Linked DNA regions of Homo sapiens. The protein of the gene in region 1 interacts with the protein of each later gene in a pairwise test. Each region holds a gene or a part of one and is shown on either strand. Other genes may lie near its edges.

Evidence for each region.
Region 2: the proteins of NME6 (region 1) and RCC1L interact in binary tests that used the Homo sapiens proteins (3 or more experiments, as listed by UniProt).

Annotation. Positions count from the first base shown.
Region 1 is NC_000003.12:48,297,639-48,306,530, reverse strand, and holds the start of NME6 (nucleoside diphosphate kinase 6), read left to right. Parts: upstream 1-5,163; 5' UTR 5,164-5,178; exon of another isoform or gene 5,179-5,218; coding exon of another isoform or gene 5,219-5,235; exon of another isoform or gene 5,236-5,261; intron 5,262-5,896; coding exon of another isoform or gene 5,897-6,004; intron 6,005-6,010; exon of another isoform or gene 6,011-6,100; intron 6,101-8,007; coding exon of another isoform or gene 8,008-8,014; coding exon 8,015-8,104; intron 8,105-8,892. UniProt on the Homo sapiens protein: Major role in the synthesis of nucleoside triphosphates other than ATP. The ATP gamma phosphate is transferred to the NDP beta phosphate via a ping-pong mechanism, using a phosphorylated active-site intermediate. Inhibitor of p53-induced apoptosis.
Region 2 is NC_000007.14:75,049,251-75,058,001, reverse strand, and holds part of RCC1L (RCC1-like G exchanging factor-like protein), read left to right. Parts: intron 1-385; coding exon 386-473; intron 474-1,277; coding exon of another isoform or gene 1,278-1,297; exon of another isoform or gene 1,298-1,489; intron 1,490-1,927; coding exon 1,928-2,101; intron 2,102-5,205; coding exon 5,206-5,291; intron 5,292-8,751. UniProt on the Homo sapiens protein: Guanine nucleotide exchange factor (GEF) for mitochondrial dynamin-related GTPase OPA1. Activates OPA1, by exchanging bound GDP for free GTP, and drives OPA1 and MFN1-dependent mitochondrial fusion. Plays an essential role in mitochondrial ribosome biogenesis.

The DNA.
Region 1 (8,892 bases):
AAAAACACCATTTCCAGAAAATGATCGTTATTTGATTTGCCTGGCAGTTCCCTAGAGACCTCCTCCAGCTGGGTTGCTTTTTGGCTTTTTGTTTTGTTTTTTGTTTTGTTTTAACCTGACTGAGAGTTCTCTCACTGAGAACTTTTTCCCTGGGGCATCTGTCAAAAACAAACAGCCTCAATTTTTAAAATTTGCAACAACCTTAAGCAGTGATAACATTTGGGACAAACAAATAACAACAACAAAAAAAAAGTAAAAGAAAAAGCTGAGAATAGAATGTCCATGGAGCTTTTGAAAAGCTCTGGCATATTTCTAGGAATCTAGAAGACCAAGAGCATGAGCAGGTCTGTAATATGTCCAGGAGAATCTTTAGAAGGCCCTATGTGCTCACCTTGGCTGACTTTAATGCTCTAAATAGCAAGAAATGAAGTCTAAAGCAGAGTTGTAAACTGCCTGCCTGACCATTGAAGGCATGGCTCAATACATACAGAATACCTCGGCAAAGGCAGAAAGACTTATTGGTTCCAAGTATTTAAAAACACTATGTCCAATCATTAGATGACCACTAAACTAATGGAACAGAGTCTTCAATGGTTACACACTACCAAGAATACATACTTTAAAAAATTAATTGATAAAAATCACTACACAAATGAATAGCAACAACAAACCTGGGGGAAGGGGAGAATCTGATTTCCAAAGTTGCCACATTATGTTGTTTAAAACATCCAATTTTCAATGAAATATTGTGACACATACAAAGAAACAAGAAAGTCTGGCCCATACACAAGAAAAAAAGATCAGTCAATAGGAATTGTTGCCAAGAAAGCTCCAATGTTGGACTTACTAGACAAAGACTTTAAATCAGCCCAGGCAGGTGACTCATGGCTATAATCCCAACACTTTGGGGGCCTGAGGTGAAAGGATCACTTGAGGCCAGGAATTCAAGACCAGCCTGGACAACATAGTTGTCCTATCTCTACAAAAAAATTAAAAATTATCAGGCATGCTGGCACGTGCCTGTAGTCCTAGCTACTTGGGAAGCTGAGGTGGGAGGATTGATTGCTTGAGCCCAGGAGGTTTAGGCTACAATGAGCTATGATTGTGCCACTGCATTCTAGCCTGGGTAACAGCGAGGCCTTATTAAAAAAAAATACACATACATACATGTATACATATTTTTTCAAAGAGATAAACTATGTCTAAAGAAATAAAGTATAAGAATGATGTGTGAACAAGTAGAGAACATCATAAAGAAATTATTTTTTTAAATATAACTTTCTTGAGGTGATAAGTACAATAACTAAAGTGACAAATTCACTAGAGAGGCTCAATAGCAAAGTTGAACAGGTAGAAGAAAGAACAAGTGAACTTGAAGAAAGATTGACATTAACCAGTGCGAGGAGCAGAAAGAAAAAGGAACAGAGCCCTGGAAGCCTTTGGGATATAATTAAGCATAACAACATAAAGATAATGGTAGTCCAGGAAGGAGAAGGAAGAAAGAAAAGGGCAGAAAGATATTTGAAGAAATAATGACTGAAAATATCTCAAATTTTTCAAAGAATGTTAACATATGCATCCAAGCAACTCAGCAAACTCCAAGTAGGACAAACTCAAAGAAATCCACACCTATACACATCATAATCTCTGTCAAAAGCCAAAGACCAAGAGAGAATTTTGAAAGCAGCAAAAGAGAAGCAAATCATTAAGTACAGATGACCCTCAGTAAGATTAACATCTAGTTTCTCGTCAGAAATCATGGAGGCCAGAAAGCAGTAGGATAACATATTCAAAGTGCTAACAGAAAAAAAACATCAGCCAAGAATTCTATATCCATAAAGAAAATCCTTCAGAAATGAAGAAGAGTGGTGACTCACTCCTGTAATCCCAGCACTTAGGGAGGCTGAGGCGGGTGGATCATCTGAGGTCAGAAGTTCAAGACCAGCCTGGCCAACACAGTGAAACCCTCTCTACTAAATATAATTACAAAATTAGCTGAGTGTGGTGTTGCATGCCTGTAATCCCAGCTGCTTGGGAGGCTGAGGCAGGAGAATTGCTTGAACCTAGGACGCAGAGGTTGCAGTGAGCCAAGATTGCACCATTGCACTCCAGTGTGGGCAACAAGAGCAAAACTCCATCTCAAAAAAAAAAAAAAAGAAAAAAAGAAAAGAAAAGAAAAAAAAAGAAATGAAGGAGAAAGTAAGATGACCAACAAAACTAATAAAAACCGAAATAATTTGTCTCCAGCAGATCCACCCTGCAGGAAATACTAAAGGGAATACTTTAGGCTGAAGCGAAAGGACACTTAAATCCACAAGGGGAAATAAAGAGAACTGGTAGAGGTAACTACACAGTTAAAGACAGTATAAATATATGGTTTTGTTTGTAAATCTTTTATTCTCCTATATGATTTAAAAGACAATTGCATAAAGCAATAGTTAATAATAAATAATAACAGCCAGGCGCAGTGGCTCATGCCTGTAATTCCAGCACTTTGGGAGGCCGAGGCGGGCGATCCATCGCCTGAGGTCAGGAGTTCAAGACCAGCCTGGCCAGCATGGTGAAACCCCATCTCTACTGAAAATACAAAAATCAGCCAGGCGTGGTGGCAGGTGCCTGTAATCCCAGCTACTTAGGAGGCTGAAGCAGGAGAATCGCTTGAACCCGGGAGGCAGAGGTTGCAGTGAGCCAAGATCACGCCATTGCACTCCAGCCTGGGCAACAGAGCGAGACTCTGTCTCAAAATAATAATAATAAATAATAATAACAAATTATACGCTTGATGATGTGTCACAGGTTTCTGAGGCTCTGTTCCTCTTTTTCTAACTTGTTGAGATGGAGGCTTACTGAATTTCCAGTCTTTCTTCTTTTCTAATATATGTATTTTAGGCTACAAATTTCCATCTAAGCAAGGCTTTAGCAGTATCAATTTTTAAAAAATTGTATCTAAGTACAGTATACATACAGAATTCACATAAGCGTAGCATTGAATGAGGCACCTGGTCAGTACTGTTTCTAAGTGTTTAGTAAATGTTTTTTATTACTACTGTGAATTGTCCTTTGCCTCTTATGCCATAGCATCCTGGCAATGGGGAGGGGTTTGAGGGTGGGATGGTGAAGAGATTCTGGGATTCCATTTTATTGGAGCATTTTTTTCCCCTTGCTTCTCATAAGGTGTCTGTCGGGGAGAGATCTGTGTCACTTATTGCAGTTTGTTGCATGCTGGAATGCTGCAGATTCTGGAATGCCATCTGTATCAGTTGTCTGGAATTTGGTTTCACATAAGGTTCTTGTCTTCTGTTTAACTGGTTTGCTGGGACTTCTGAAGTCCTGATGATCATACTGGGAAGGCAGACTCAGGGGTGGCGATGCTGGCTGTGGCCCTCATCTGCTGGGCCATGGTGGTTATTGTGTTGCTTCTTTTGCTGTGTCCTAGAACAGGGGCTTTACTGAGCCACCCATGTCCTCTGAGAGCTTTGCAACTTACAAGGACTGTTCTCTTCCTTCAGGGGCTGGGATGACTTGCTGATTTAAGCCCCTTTGTTGAGATACAGAGGTATTGTCATAATGACTGGGACTTGTGTTGCTCATCTTTGAGGAAGATTTGTTTAGGCTTGCTGTTATCCACCATATCTTTTATTTAGAGTAGTTTGCTGGCTAACTCACTGGGTCCTTTGGCCTACTGCAGATTCAGTTGCTACAACTCCGTCAGTGATTCCGTGTAGGGAGAAGTAATGGGTTGTCATTTTTGGAGTCAGGGTTGGGGGCCTGGGGTTTGAGAATCAGGTCAGAATTCATGGGTTGAGGTTTAGGGATTTGAGGTTGGGATTAGGAGGTTAGAAGATAAGCATCAAGGGCTCAGGATCTAGAGACCAGGTCTAGGATTAAAGGATTATAAATTTAGGGACTAGGGCTTGGGTTAGGATTGGAACTGAGTAGCAGAGGAGTTAAGATTAGAATAGGGGGTGGTGGTCAAGGGTCTAAACAAAAAGAGAAGAGATGCAAGGGTCTGCGGAGAGACTGGAAAAACTTTCCTCGTAAGTTCCCAAAGGTGACTGGGTATCAGGAAACTATTGGGAAGTGGCTTCTTATTGCTGCAGGGACAGAAGCCATGAGTTGGGGATAAACCTTCCAAGAGGGCAACACCTGTGTAGGCAGACACCGAAGTCAGTTAAATGTGCAAGTAAGTCTTTACATTGATGACAGTTATCGTTTATTTTCATTCTTCTCATTCTCAGTGATTTCCCTCAAAAAAAAAAAAAAAAACCCAAGAAACCAAAACACTTTTTTTTTTTTTAACCATCTTTATTCAACCTGTCACCAAGTTTCTGGTCACCTGCCACAGCTGACCCCCGATCCATTCTCCCTGTCCCCATCCTCTCCATACATCACAGTACACACCAGGAATACCCCCAGTTCTCATCTCCTCACCCTGGGCTGCGTCAATAGACTCCAGAGTAACCCAAACCACACCCTGCTGCCCAGATTCCTAATGACACGTGAAAGGCCGTTATGACTTGCTTTCCTCATGCCCTATGCACACCTGGGCTCCAGCCAAGGATCCTCCTTCATCAACCCCCATATTAGCTACGATCCTTCATGCTAATGTATCGCTCAGAGCTCAAAAGACTTTGAAGGGCCTGTGCCTTCGCTATCGAGCGCTTAAGTTCTTTGCCCTCCGCGTACTTTTGACAAATACTGGGCATCAACCATGTTCCAGGAACTACCCTGGGCAAAGAAAATAACTGGGCAAGGTTTCCATCGGTGTCTCTGCTGGCGGGCATCGCCCCCGCCGGGCCGCCACCCTGAACGAGCCCGTCCGGTCCTCTGGGTTCCGCCACCCTGCGTAGCGCTGCGCCAGCACCCGGCCCAGCACTCCCTCCCGCCGAGGGCGCCCAGGCCGGCTTCCGAGGGCGCCCAGGCCGGCTTCCGAGGGGCGGTTCCCACAAGCGAGTTCCGGCGCCCAGAACGGCTTCATCCTCTCGTCCCGTCCGCGGCAAATGCATGCGCCTGGAAAACCCGCCACCCTCCAGGGCAACTCACACCTCACCTCACGCCGCGGCGCAACCGGACTAGGACCCCGAGCAGGGCTGCCCAGGGAGCGCCTGAAGGACCCTGCGAGGGCCGCAGGCTATCCAGCGTGGCGCCTGGTGGCCGGGCCCTGTGCCGGAGGACAAGGTGAACCCGCAGCCGGACTTCTGCTGCACTGGGGCTCCGAATGACCCAGAATCTGGGGTGGGCTTAGGCCCCGGGTACGAGGGGTGAGGGCTGCGCGGTTGCAGGCCTAGAGAAGTAGGGGGCTGGGTCGAGAGTTGAGGCCGTGAGCCCGGGGGGCTGGAGGGCGTGGCCACGGGGGTAGGGGCGCAGGTCCCGGCCGCGCGTGGGTGGACCAGGGCTGGGCCGCCGCCCTCCAGGAAGCGAGTGGTGGCCCCCTCGAGTGCTGGGGTGGCAGTGTACCGACAGCTTTACTTTTTTTTTGTTTTGGAGACGGAGTCTGGTTCTGTCGCCAGGCTGGAGTGCAGTGGCGCGATCTCGGCTCACTGCAGCCTCCGCCTCCAGAGTTCAAGTAATGCTCCTGCCTCAGCCTCCCTAGTAGCTGTGACTGTAGGCGCGCGCCGTTATGCCTGGCTAATTTTTTTGTATTTTTAGTAGAGACGGGCTTTCACCATGTTGGCCAGGATGGTCTTGATCTCCTGACTTCGTGATCCGCCCGCCTCGGTCTTTCAAAGTGCTGGGATTACAGGCGTGAGACACCGCGCCCTGCCTAAAATTTTTAATTCTCATGGAGTCACCTTTAAGTCTAACAGGATTCTCGACTTGTCAGTTTGTTGTAAACCAAGAGTCAAGACAGCCACAACTTAGCTGCGTTAGTAAAGGAACCATGTCCTCCCTACAGGCCGCGTGTTCTTGCCACGAGAACCCCTAGCAGCCTGGCCTTGGAATGGCTGGATGAGGTGCATTCGTTGGTTCATTCAGATACTGTTAAGAGCCAGCTGTGTGCTAGGTACTGCTTACACCTTCTGGTGGTGAAGACGGAACTGAAGGGAACTTGCAAGGAGCTGTGAGAAAGTGTAACGGGAAGTGAGCTAAGATCACTAAGGTGGGCAGGAGGCAACCAGAGAAAGCACATTCAGGACTGCGAAAACTACTCACACAAAGGCTGTCAAGCCAGAAATTCTTTCAAAACTGAAAGGCCCATGAGGTTGGAGCTAGAGAAACTTAAGGAGTGTGGGGTTCCAGATGAGGCTAGAGAGGTACGTGGGGAACCACAAGATCATGCAGAGCCTGGGAGGCCGTGATAAGGATTTTGGTTTTTATTCTAAGAACAGGGTGCCCTTTAAAGGGTTAAGGAGGGGAACCATATGATTAGATTTTCATGTGTGGTTCACTTTGGCTGCTGTGTGGAGATTGTAGAGGTTGGCAGGACAGAAACTGGGAGACCAAAGAGGAGGCTGTCAAGATGTCCAGAGGGGAATGATGATGTCTTAGAGTTATGGTGGTAGCAGTTGAGGATGGGAGAATGGTATGGGTTTTGAGATATATTAGGTAGGGAAAATTGCCAGAAGTTGGTGATCGTGTGGATATGAAGAGTGAGGGAGGGGAGGTGTCATGGATGTCTCTGTAGACAGTTGCTGAAAATGACGTGTTACCACCTGTGGCATTAGGGAGAGTGGGTTAGCTGATCTTGTACTGGTTAGATTGGGTGTGGCTTTATGGTTTGAGTGGAAAATCAGGTTGAAAGCTGTAGAAAGGACATGAATAGGAGCGACCATGGCAGTTTCTTTGCTTGGGCCAGATTCTAATACCACCTTTAACATGATTGACAGTTTTTAGGATAAGATAAATGAGAATGTTGTCTAGACTCTGTCCCTGCCTATGTTAATGGAAGCCTTCTCTGTATTTGTCGACAAATGATTTTATATATATACACACATATATATTATATATATATACACACACACACATACACACATATGTAGTAGAGTCAGGGTCTTGCTTTGTTGCCCAGGTCAAACTCCTGGCCTCAAGTACTGATATTACAGGTGTGAGCCACTACACATGGCCAAATGAGAGATAATATTGAGATAAGATTTTGAGACAAAGTCTTTACTCCTGCAGAGGTGATAAATTTCTCACGTATAACTCGGATTTCACAATTGGAAAAGACCTCAAAATTCCCTTAGTCCAGTTTATAAAATGCTTTTATGTCCATTATATCATTTCTACAATATTGAGCTCTTACACCATGCTAGACATTAGGAATACAAAGATGAATAGAAATAAGACTATATAGGTTTATTTAGTAAATAAAATTGATCAAGCACCTTTGTGTCAGGCACTGTTTCAGATGCAAAATGGTTATGACTTGTTCCTGATGTTGGAGTTGTGTGTTGACCTCAGTGTTACCACTGAGGACAGCTGAGTGTATTAACAGGTTTGATTTGGGCACAGGAGATCCTGATCTCTCCATAATATTAGAATAGAGATGGTGTTTATCCAGCAGACTTTTTGGTATCCTGGTAGCACCTCAGTTGCTGTCCATCAATCTTCCAATTCTAGATTTGATAGGAGAGCACTATGGGATGGAAGATTTTAAGAGATGAATTCATCATTATGAATAGGCCTTGTGGATAGGCTGTTTAGGAGTATAAATTGTAAATCCTCTGTAAAATACAAAAGGAAGTTAGGAAGGGATATTGGCAGAGACAGGTAGTATTTAAACTTGAGTTTCTTTTAATGGGTAATTCCCTCATAGGCTTACAGTTGCACTAGATTGTATACTCCACGGGGGAACTTGAATGCTCCCTCTACAACTCCCCTCCCTTGATCCCATGAGCCCAAATGGGCAATTAAAATAATGTATATGGCCTTAAGATGAAACTGTCAGGTTCTTTATGAGTGTCAGGAGTGAGAGCACTCGTTGGCTTGCAAGGCTGCGTGGCTCCAATGTAGGGAAGGCTGGGAGTGCCGTCCTGAAGGGTTCCTAATACAGCTCTCTAATGGCAGGAGTGAGATGGCCTCAATCTTGCGAAGCCCTCAGGCTCTCCAGCTCACTCTAGCCCTGATCAAGCCTGACGCAGTCGCCCATCCACTGATTCTGGAGGTAAGAATGAATCCTAAGTCTCTACCGCATGCCCTGGGAATTGCTACTGCTTCAGGTGCCATTGGGCCATTTATGGTGACTGACAACACAGACTTGTGCTGGATGCTGTGGAGGCAAAGCTAGAAGCCATGAACTCTGACCTAAGGAGACTAAGAATCCATTGGAGACTTGAGGCAGACCTAAAATGTAAGAAAGGACCCAAAGCAATAATAGAACCGAATATCAAGACAATGTGTATTTGTTAGTTTCTATTGCTACATAACACATTACTCCAGACTTGAGAGCTTAAAACAACACTTATTTGTTATTTCACAGTTCAGTAGTTTAGAGGTCCAGTAGGCTTGGCTGAGTTGTTTGCTTAAGGTCTCACAAGGCCAAAGTCAAGGTATTGGCTGACCAGGTCCTTATCTGGAGGGTCTGGGGGAAGAATTCACTTCCAGACTCATTCAGGTTGTTGGCAGAGTTGATTTCTTATGATGGTAGGACTGAGGCTGCCATTTCCCTGTTGGCCTTCAGGCAGGAACTCCTTTCAGTTTCTAGATACCACTCACATCCCTCATCACATGGCCCAGTCTGTCTTCAAGACAGCTGCAGTGCATTGAATCCTTCTCATGCTTTGAATCTCTCTGACTTCTTCAGCCTCTAGCCAGAGAAAATGCCTGGCATTGAGAAGCCTTCACAATTCTAATCCCACAGGGCTCATGTGATTAATTAGGCCCACCTGGATAATCTCCCTTTTGATTACAGCAGAATCAACTGATTAGTAACCTTAATTTCCCTCAAAATCC
Region 2 (8,751 bases), on another chromosome or scaffold:
ATTTTTAATAGAGACAGGGTTTCACCATGTTGGCCAGGCTGGTCTCGAACTCCTGACCTCAAGTGATCCACCTGCCTCCGCCTCCCAGAGTGCTAGGATTACAGGCGTGAGCCACCACACCCGGCCACAAATGTCATTTTATGTTAATTTTGGTTGACATCTGCCTCGTCCACTAGACTAGAACTCTCTGAGGGTGGAAACTGGGCCTCTTTTGCTTCCCATTCTACCCCAGCACCTAGTATGATGCTTGGCATGTGATGTTCAGGAAGTATCTGTGGAGTGAATGAATGAACTAGGACTCAGCTACTCTGTACCTAAGACCAGAACACTTCCCGGTCCTTACTGGCTTGCTTTCCTAACAGTGTGGCTCCTTTCTTTGGTTCAGGTGAATGTGCCCCGCTGCTTACACTTCTCAGGAGTGGGGAAGGTGCGACAGGCTGCATGCGGTGGCACGGGCTGTGCAGTGTTAAACGGTGAGACCTTCTTTCCGGTGGCTCATTGGGAAGCTGTAGGTAGATTACATAGGGAGTGGTCAGTGTCCATTGGATTTGCAGGCCGTAGACCTTAGCCTTAGGAGGGTAACATGGCTGGGCGCGGTGGCTCACATCTGTAATCCCAGCACTTTGGGGAACTGATGCAGGAGGATTGCTTGAGGCCAGGAGTTCCAGACCAGCCTGGACAACATAACGAGACCCTGTCTCTACCAAAAAATGGAGAAATTAGCTGGAAGGCTGGGTGTGGTGGCTCACACCTGTAATCTCAGCACTTTGGGAGGCCAAGGCAGGCAGATCACCTGAGGTCAGGAGTTCAAGACCAGCCTGGCCAACGTGGTGAAACCCTGACTCTACTAAAAATAGAAAAATTAGCCAGACATGGTGGTACATGCTTGTAATCCTAGTACTTGGAAGGCTAAGGTGGGAGGATTGCTTGGACCCAGGAGGCAGAGGTTGTAGTGAGCCGAGATTGCGCCACTGCACTCCAGCCTGGATGACTCTGTCTCAATAGAAAAAGAAAAAATGAAAAATTAGCTGGGCATGGTGGTGCACACCTGTAGTCCCAGCTACTCAGAAGGCTGAGGCAGAAAGGTCCCTTGAGCCCAGGAGTTCGAGCTGCAGTGAGCTATGATCATGCCACTGCACTGGGCAACACGGTGAGACCCTGTTTCAAAAAAGGAAGGGACTATGGCCATGGGAAGATGGCATTGGATTAGAAGATGGCATTACAGGGTGTGAATGAAGTTCTTAACAAAAAGCGAATAGTCTGCGATTTATCTGTAGATACATGGCCACAGAGCTGAGTCATCCTAGAGCAAACCTCTGGAGTGGAGAGCGAACTACTTCATTCCCCTCCCTTAGCCTGGGCCAGAGAGACTCCAGCTCTGCCTTCTCCAGCCAAAAAATCAAAGGCAGATGGGAGAACAGCCTTCAGCTTTGGATAACGATGAAATATCTGGCACCACTGATGAATATTAAACTTTCTATAACCAAAACATCATTTCTAAGAGTTTTAAGAATCTGGCCAGACATTGTTGATGTGTTTGGCCTTCTGATCAGTGTGAAACACAGAGCTGTCATTAGGGGGAGAAAACATCCTCCAATTCTCTGGTATTCGTATGGGTTTTCTGGATGATTTATACGCTCGTCCCTTCCAGGTTACTAACCCTCAAGATGTGGGAAGTTTGTGTTCTGAGCCAGGAGAGCTGGCGAGACAGACTCCCCCAGCAAGAATTTAAGCAGGGGAGAGAGAATTATTATTCTAAATCTCTGTCTGCATGTTCTTGCCAAGCAAGGAGGAAAAAAACAAAACAAAAAAAAAACAAAAAAAAACCGTGTGGATGTCATAAACCTTGGTGGTGTAGTTTGAGTTTCTGGTGAGGGAGGTTCTTACTTGGATGGACTTACTGACCCTTGTTTTTACTGTAATGTAGGAGAAGGACATGTTTTTGTCTGGGGCTATGGAATTCTTGGGAAAGGTCCAAACCTAGTGGAAAGTGCCGTCCCTGAAATGATTCCACCCACTCTCTTTGGCTTGACGGAGTTCAACCCAGAAATCCAGGTTTCCCGCATCCGATGTGGACTCAGCCACTTTGCTGCACTGACCAGTAAGTTACCAAGCCCGGTGGCCCTGGTGTGAGCCCAGCAGAGGTTCTCTGTCTCCAGTTCAACCCCAAACTGCGGGCAGCTCTCAGGTTCCACCCATCCAACAGAACGGCGCCTTTGTACTGATAACTCAAGCAAGGGCTAAGCCAGAAGTTGTTTGCCTCGAGGTTGTATAATGTCTTGTTTTCCCCCCCTGGAGTTTTAATTTTGGTTCGTTTGGTTTGTGGGTAGGCTAACGTGAACGTGCATTTTCTCAAGAGAGCACCCGTCGGTGGTAGGAAGGGGCATTGCTAGTACGTCGGGTGCTGGAGGAAACCAGCAGAGGCTTGGCGGATCCATGGGTGGGTGATTAGGAAGTGAATGTGTGGGGCTTAATCCCATTCCCTGGCCGAGCCCAGACCCTGATCTGACCCAGGATATGGGATGGCAAAAGGCCGATTTGTCAGACTGTCCCGTGGTTTCACGGAGGTAAATCTACCGATTTCTCCAAAGTGCCGGGGTAGAGAATGATGAAAGGGGAGAGCAAAATGGAGGTTTTTCCCAAAGGCCTGCCAGATTACAAAGCCACAGAATATCCGCTTACCCTGCAGGGTAAGGGTAAGGAATGTGTCCTTTTCTTGGTTACATCTCTTACTCCACCACAGTTACCGTGGGTTCAATTTGCTGCTCTTTAGTTGACTCGAATAGTAAAACTGTCCTGAATTAATTTCATTCTGTGATTCTCAAGTAAATTAGTTATTTCCTTGCAATTAAAAGAATCTTTTCATCTCATGGCAAGTAATTGTTTTCTTTTTAAACATCCAGGCCGGGACAGTCAGTTGGTGTCATCTTTGGTTGAGTTCTCTGGCCTCATTCCCACGTGGGGCCTGTCCCAGATGCTCACCCTCTGTACCAGGGTCCTAACTGCTATTCACTTATTGTCTGAATTCCAGGCTCCAGAGGCCGTCAAACAGGCAGGCCTGGGTTGTTATGGCTGCCAGCTGGAGTTTTATCTGGCTCTAGGCTGAAGCACTGAAGTGGCAGTGGTCATGACTAAGCCAGAGAATTCCTGGCCACTGCCCAGCCAGAGTGGCCACTTGCATTTGCAGCTGAGTGTAGGTCTCATGAATTCTTTTTTTTTGAGTTGGAGTCTCACTCTTGTTGCCCAGGCTGGAGTGCAATGGCGCGATCTTGGCTCACTGCAACCTCCGCCTCCCGAGTTCAAACGATTCTCCTGCCTCAGCCTCCCAAGTAGCTGGGATTACAGGCACACACCACCACGCCCGGCTAATTCAGTGTCATGAATTCTTAAAGCTATTTTGATTTGATAAATAAGAGTCGTATGGACTAATTTTGGGGGAAACAAATATCTACTTTCCAGAAAGTTCTTAAGGCCTCAACTATGGGCAGAGACACATGTTTAGAAATCTGTGTGAAGCATTTGACTAGAGCAGAGGCTTTTCTATTTGCCCTCATGCCATGTAGCCATTTCAGGTCACAGCGAAATGAAATTCCTTTCTGGATTTCTCCCCGAGACTTAACAGGCCTCCTTCTAAGGGTGAGTTACTGCCTGTTGGTAGACAGAGCCTAGCTGTCTTCCTGCCTGTGTGCCTGGCATTTGCAGATAGCCATCTGGGAATTAGAGTTGGTTGGTTTATCCTGTGGTCTGCTAGCATTTTGGGGAGCCAGGCCGAATTGTTCTATTAAACACCTAAGGGCTAGCTGGGTGCAGTGGCTCATGCTTGTAATCCCAGCACTTTGGGAGGCCAAGATGAGAGGATCCCTCAAAGCCCAGGAGTTCGAGACTAGCCTAGGCAACATAGTGAGATCCCTTTTCTACAAAAAATACAGAAATTAGCTGGGTGTGGTGGTGTGCGCCTGTAGTCCCAGCTACTCTGGAGGCTGAGGTGGAAGGACTGCTTGAGTTTGAGAGTTCAAGGCTGCAGTGAGCTATGTTTGTGCCACTGCGTCGCAGCCTGGGCAGCAGAGTGAGACCCTGTCTCAAAAGCAAACAAACACACACACACAAAAACTATCTAAGGTCTGAGTGTGGAGAACAAGGGGCATGCTTAGATCAGGGGCCTAAGACAGCTTGTAATTATTCCGTACTTCATCAGCCCCAGGTCTTGTAGTCCTGGCTTTTCCATGTCACTTCCTCTGCCTCCCATGACCCAAGCCTTTTGCCCAACAGCTGATGGTGACATGGGCCCAGGAGTGCCCCAGCTGGTGCAGACAGAGTCCCACCTGAAGGCCGGGCTAGGAGAGGCCATCTCCTGGGTTGACCTCTTAAACAGCATCTTGTACTTTTTCTTCATGACAGTTTTTACAGTTTGTAAACATATATTAAAATCATCTGTCTGTTCCGTCTCTGGCCAGTCCCCAGCTCCTGGAACACAGACCTAGACCCAGCACAAGCAGGCACTTGGTCATTAGATGCCCTGTGGCTGAATGCTCCCAAGATATGGACAATCAATCCAGGAATGACAAATTGTCTTACTTTTCACTGTCAAATCAGGAAGCCCAGGGTGTCGCCAGGATTTGTGGAAGGCAGAGTTTGGTGGCACACGATTGTGGGCGGGGCACAAGGGGTGAGCAGAGTGGGCCGTGTGCATCAGTGACCTCCAGCCCCGTGCACCACCCCCAGACCCCAGCTCCATGCACCACCCCCAGACCTGTCCACCACCCCCAGACCCCAACTCCATGCACTACCCCCAGCCCTGTCCACCACCCCCAGACCCCAGCTCCATGCACCACCCCCAGCCCTGTCCACCACCCCCAGACCCCAGCTCCATGCACCACCCCCAGCCCCGTGCACCACCCCCAGACCCCAGCTCCATGCATCACCCCCAGCCCCGTGCACTGCCCCCTGCCCCATCTTCATTTGAGTGCTCATCTCCCACGTGGGTGGATGCAGCAGAAGTCCTGGCCGTGGATGTGTTTTCGATATGGGGACAGCATCTCAGACCCTTACTTTTGCCTTCAAAGAAAGCATGAACGCCTGGTAAAAGCTGAACAGTGGGCTCTGTAGGTATCTGGTTCTAGAAAGCCTGTTCTCATGACCCATCCTCTCCTTGGAGACTTGTTCTTCACACAGTCCCAACCAACCCCTGTTTTCCTCCCTTTGCAGACAAAGGAGAGCTGTTTGTATGGGGCAAGAACATCCGAGGGTGCCTGGGAATCGGTCGCCTGGAGGACCAGTATTTCCCATGGAGGGTAAGGCTGGCCGGGGAGGTCTTGAGAATGGATGCTAAGAGTAGAGTCACCTGACGTCACTGCAGACACCTCGCGTGCAGATGGGCCAGGACGAGGGCCATGGGACCTGCTCCCCCTTCCGGGTCCTGGCTGCACTCCTGCAGCGCGGCATGCTATGTCATTGCACACTCTGTGGTGACACCCATGAGATACCCGTGGTGCATCTGCATGGTGTGATGCGTGGGGGAGTGACACCAGGCTTCTTGGGGTGCAGGAGCTGGGTCAACCCATCCCGGCCCACTGACTGGGAGGTTGGAGGGAGTAGCCCACTCAAGCATCCAGTCCTATAAGAAGCCCTGTCGGAGGCCATCCTTGGGGTGGATCGGGGAAACAGAGGCACGATGGTGCAAAGGCTCTGGTAGGGTGCCATGAGGCTCCGGAGAGGGGGAGATATTGGATGAAGTTGGCACGCTAGAAGCTGTTTACAGAAGCCCATGTGGGGGAATGCTTCACAATGAATTTAAAAGAAAGCAGGATGTTTAATATTTAGATGGCCCAACCGCAGCTATGAAGTGAAAAAATAAAGTCGCTTCCTTAGGGGCGGTAGTATGCAATTAGACAAAAAGGCTCCTTCCAGAATTACAGGGGAAGAGACGCTCATTCTAAAATTGTAGTTTACCTTAGTGTTGTTTACTAAGTCAGTTCTTTAAGGCATTCTAAAAAAGGAGGTTTTTGGGGTTTTTTGAACATGAAACATATGTTCATGGTACAAAAAAATGCACTATGGAAAATGAGTCTCCCACCACCCAGTTTTTGTTCCAGAGGCAGCCACTGGTCCTGATTTCTTTATGTTCCTTTCCAGAGATAGTCTCTGCATAGAGACTGGTGTGCATGCGTGCTTTGTGTGTGTGTGCCTGTGAGTACATACATGTGTGTGCAGTGTGCATATGGGTGTATTTTATCAGAAGGTTGGATTTTAATTTGTTTTGAAATTGTGAAAAGCGTTTTTAAAAAGGACTTGCACCAGGTGTGGTGTCTCACACCTGTAATCCCAGCGCTTGGGGAGGCCCAGGTGGGTGGATCACAAGGTCAGGAGTTCGAGACCAGTCTGACCAACATGATGAAACCCCATGTCTATTAAAAATACAAAAATTAGCCAGGCATGGTGGCACACGCCTGTAATCCCAGCTACTTGGGAGGCTGAGGCAGGAAATCACTTGAACCCGGGAGGCAGAGGTTGCAGTGAGCCAAGATCAGACGCTGCTGCACTCCAGCCTGGGCAACAGAGGGAGACTGTGTCTCAAAAAAAAACAAAGGACTTGCAAAAGAAATGTGTATATATATATGTGTGTATATATATATGTGTGTATATATATGTGTGTGTGTATATATATGTGTGTGTGTGTGTATATATGTGTGTATATATATATGTATGTATTTATATGTGTGTGTATATATGTGTGTATATATACACACACACATATAAATATATATACATATATAATACATTTATATTATACGTTTATATATATTAAATATATATATATATATATTTTTTCCAAGACTATCGGTGGAGGCTCTGAGAAAGCAAGTTGAAATGGAGACTTTAACTTTGTTTTTTTGTTTTTGCTTATTATGAGACAGGGTCTCACTTTTATCACTCAGGCTGGATTGCAGTGATGTGATCACAGCTCACTGCAGCCTTGACCTTCCTGGGCTCAGGTGATCCTCCCACCTCAGCCTCCTGAATAGCTGGGACCACAGGCGTACACCACCACACCTGACAAATTTTTTTATTTTTAGTAGAGATGGGAGTCTCACTATGTTGCCCAGGCTGGTCTCAAACTTCCGGCTTCAAGCAATCTGCCTCCCTCAGCTTCCCAAAGTGCTGGGATTACAGGCATGACCCATCACGCCCGGGCGACTTTAGCCTTGTTGGAAAGCTGTTTGTATAATAGAGTTGTTCCCAAGGTGGTGGGGCTTGCCGGCTTTCTCCTGAGCCTGGAAACTGCCGGTGTGAGGAACAGAGAGTCGGGCAGTGGGTGTGGCTCAGATAATGTGAGCATCAGTCATCTACATGCCCACTTGCTTTCTCACTGACTCCTCTCTTCTCTCACTTTGCCCTTTCTTTCGAAAAGGACTTCCTTCTGAGGGGGGAACTTGGGAAACAGTTAAAGCAGCCGGGTTTTGGGTGAAAGAACGCTGACGAGGGTCTGCCCCCCGCCCTCATTTCCTTCAAATCAGAGTGATCAGCCTGAGATTTGACTCAGGTCACGTTGCCCCTGCCATAAGGGCATGTGCAAAGCGCTGGTCCCTGTGCGGGCAGGGAGTGGCCGGAGCCCGATCCCGTTGACATTCCATCTGGGTCACTTGCCCTGGCTCGCCACACACCAAGTGTCCTTCTGGTCATTTGCTTTTTATTTTTATTTTTATTTTATTATTATTGTTTTGAGATGGAGTCTTGCTCTGTTGCCCAGGCTTGAGTGCAGTGGCATGATCTCAGCTCACTGAAACCTCCACCTTCCGGGTTCAAGTGATTCTCCTTCCTCAGCCTCCCTGGTAGCTGGGATTACAGGTGCATGCCACGACGCCTGGCTATCATTTGCTTTTTAAACACATTTGTGCCTTTGGGAAAAGAGCACCCCAGCCTGTCCCCGTGACGGCGGCATTTGGCGCCAAACCATTGTCCTTCCTCTTGCACATTCAGGGAGCCCCTAAGGGTTTGTGCACGGAGTGGCCTCGACCCCTGTCCTCTTTGGATTGGGGTGGGAGAGTCCAGTCCCTTCTGATGACTCACTTAAAAAAAAAATTACAAGTGATTTTTCTTTTCTTTGTTTTGTTTGTTTGTTCTTTTAGACAGGGTCTTGCTCTGTCACCCAAGCTGGAGTGTGGTGACAGGATCTCGGCTCACTGCAGCCTCTGTCTCCCAGGTTCAAGTGATCCTCCTATCTCAGCCTCCCGAGTAGCTGGGATTACAGGCTTGCACAACCACACCTTGCTAATTTTTGTATTTTTTGTAGAGATGGGGTCTTGCCGTGTTGCCCAGGATTTTTTTTTTTTTTTGAAAACAGGGTCTTGCTTTGTCGCCCAGGCTGGAGTATGGTGTGATCACACTCACTGCAGCCTCAAACTCCCAGGCTCAAGCTATCCTCCTGCCTCAGCCCCACAAGTAACTGAGATGTGGGATGGGATGACAGGCATGTGCCAGCACCACACCCAAATAATTTTTTTTTCGTTTTTTTTTTAAGAGACGGGGTCTTATGTGTTGATCTCAACCTCCTGGTCTCAAGTGATCCTCTTGCTTCAGCCTCTGGAATAGCTGAGATTACAGGCATGTGCCACCACACACGGCTTATTTTATTATTTATATTTATTTGTTTTATTTTATTTATTTGAGAGATGAGGTCTTCCTATGTTGCCCAGGCTGGTCTCAAACTTCTGCCTCAAGTGGTCTTCCCACCTTGGCCTCACAAAATGTTGG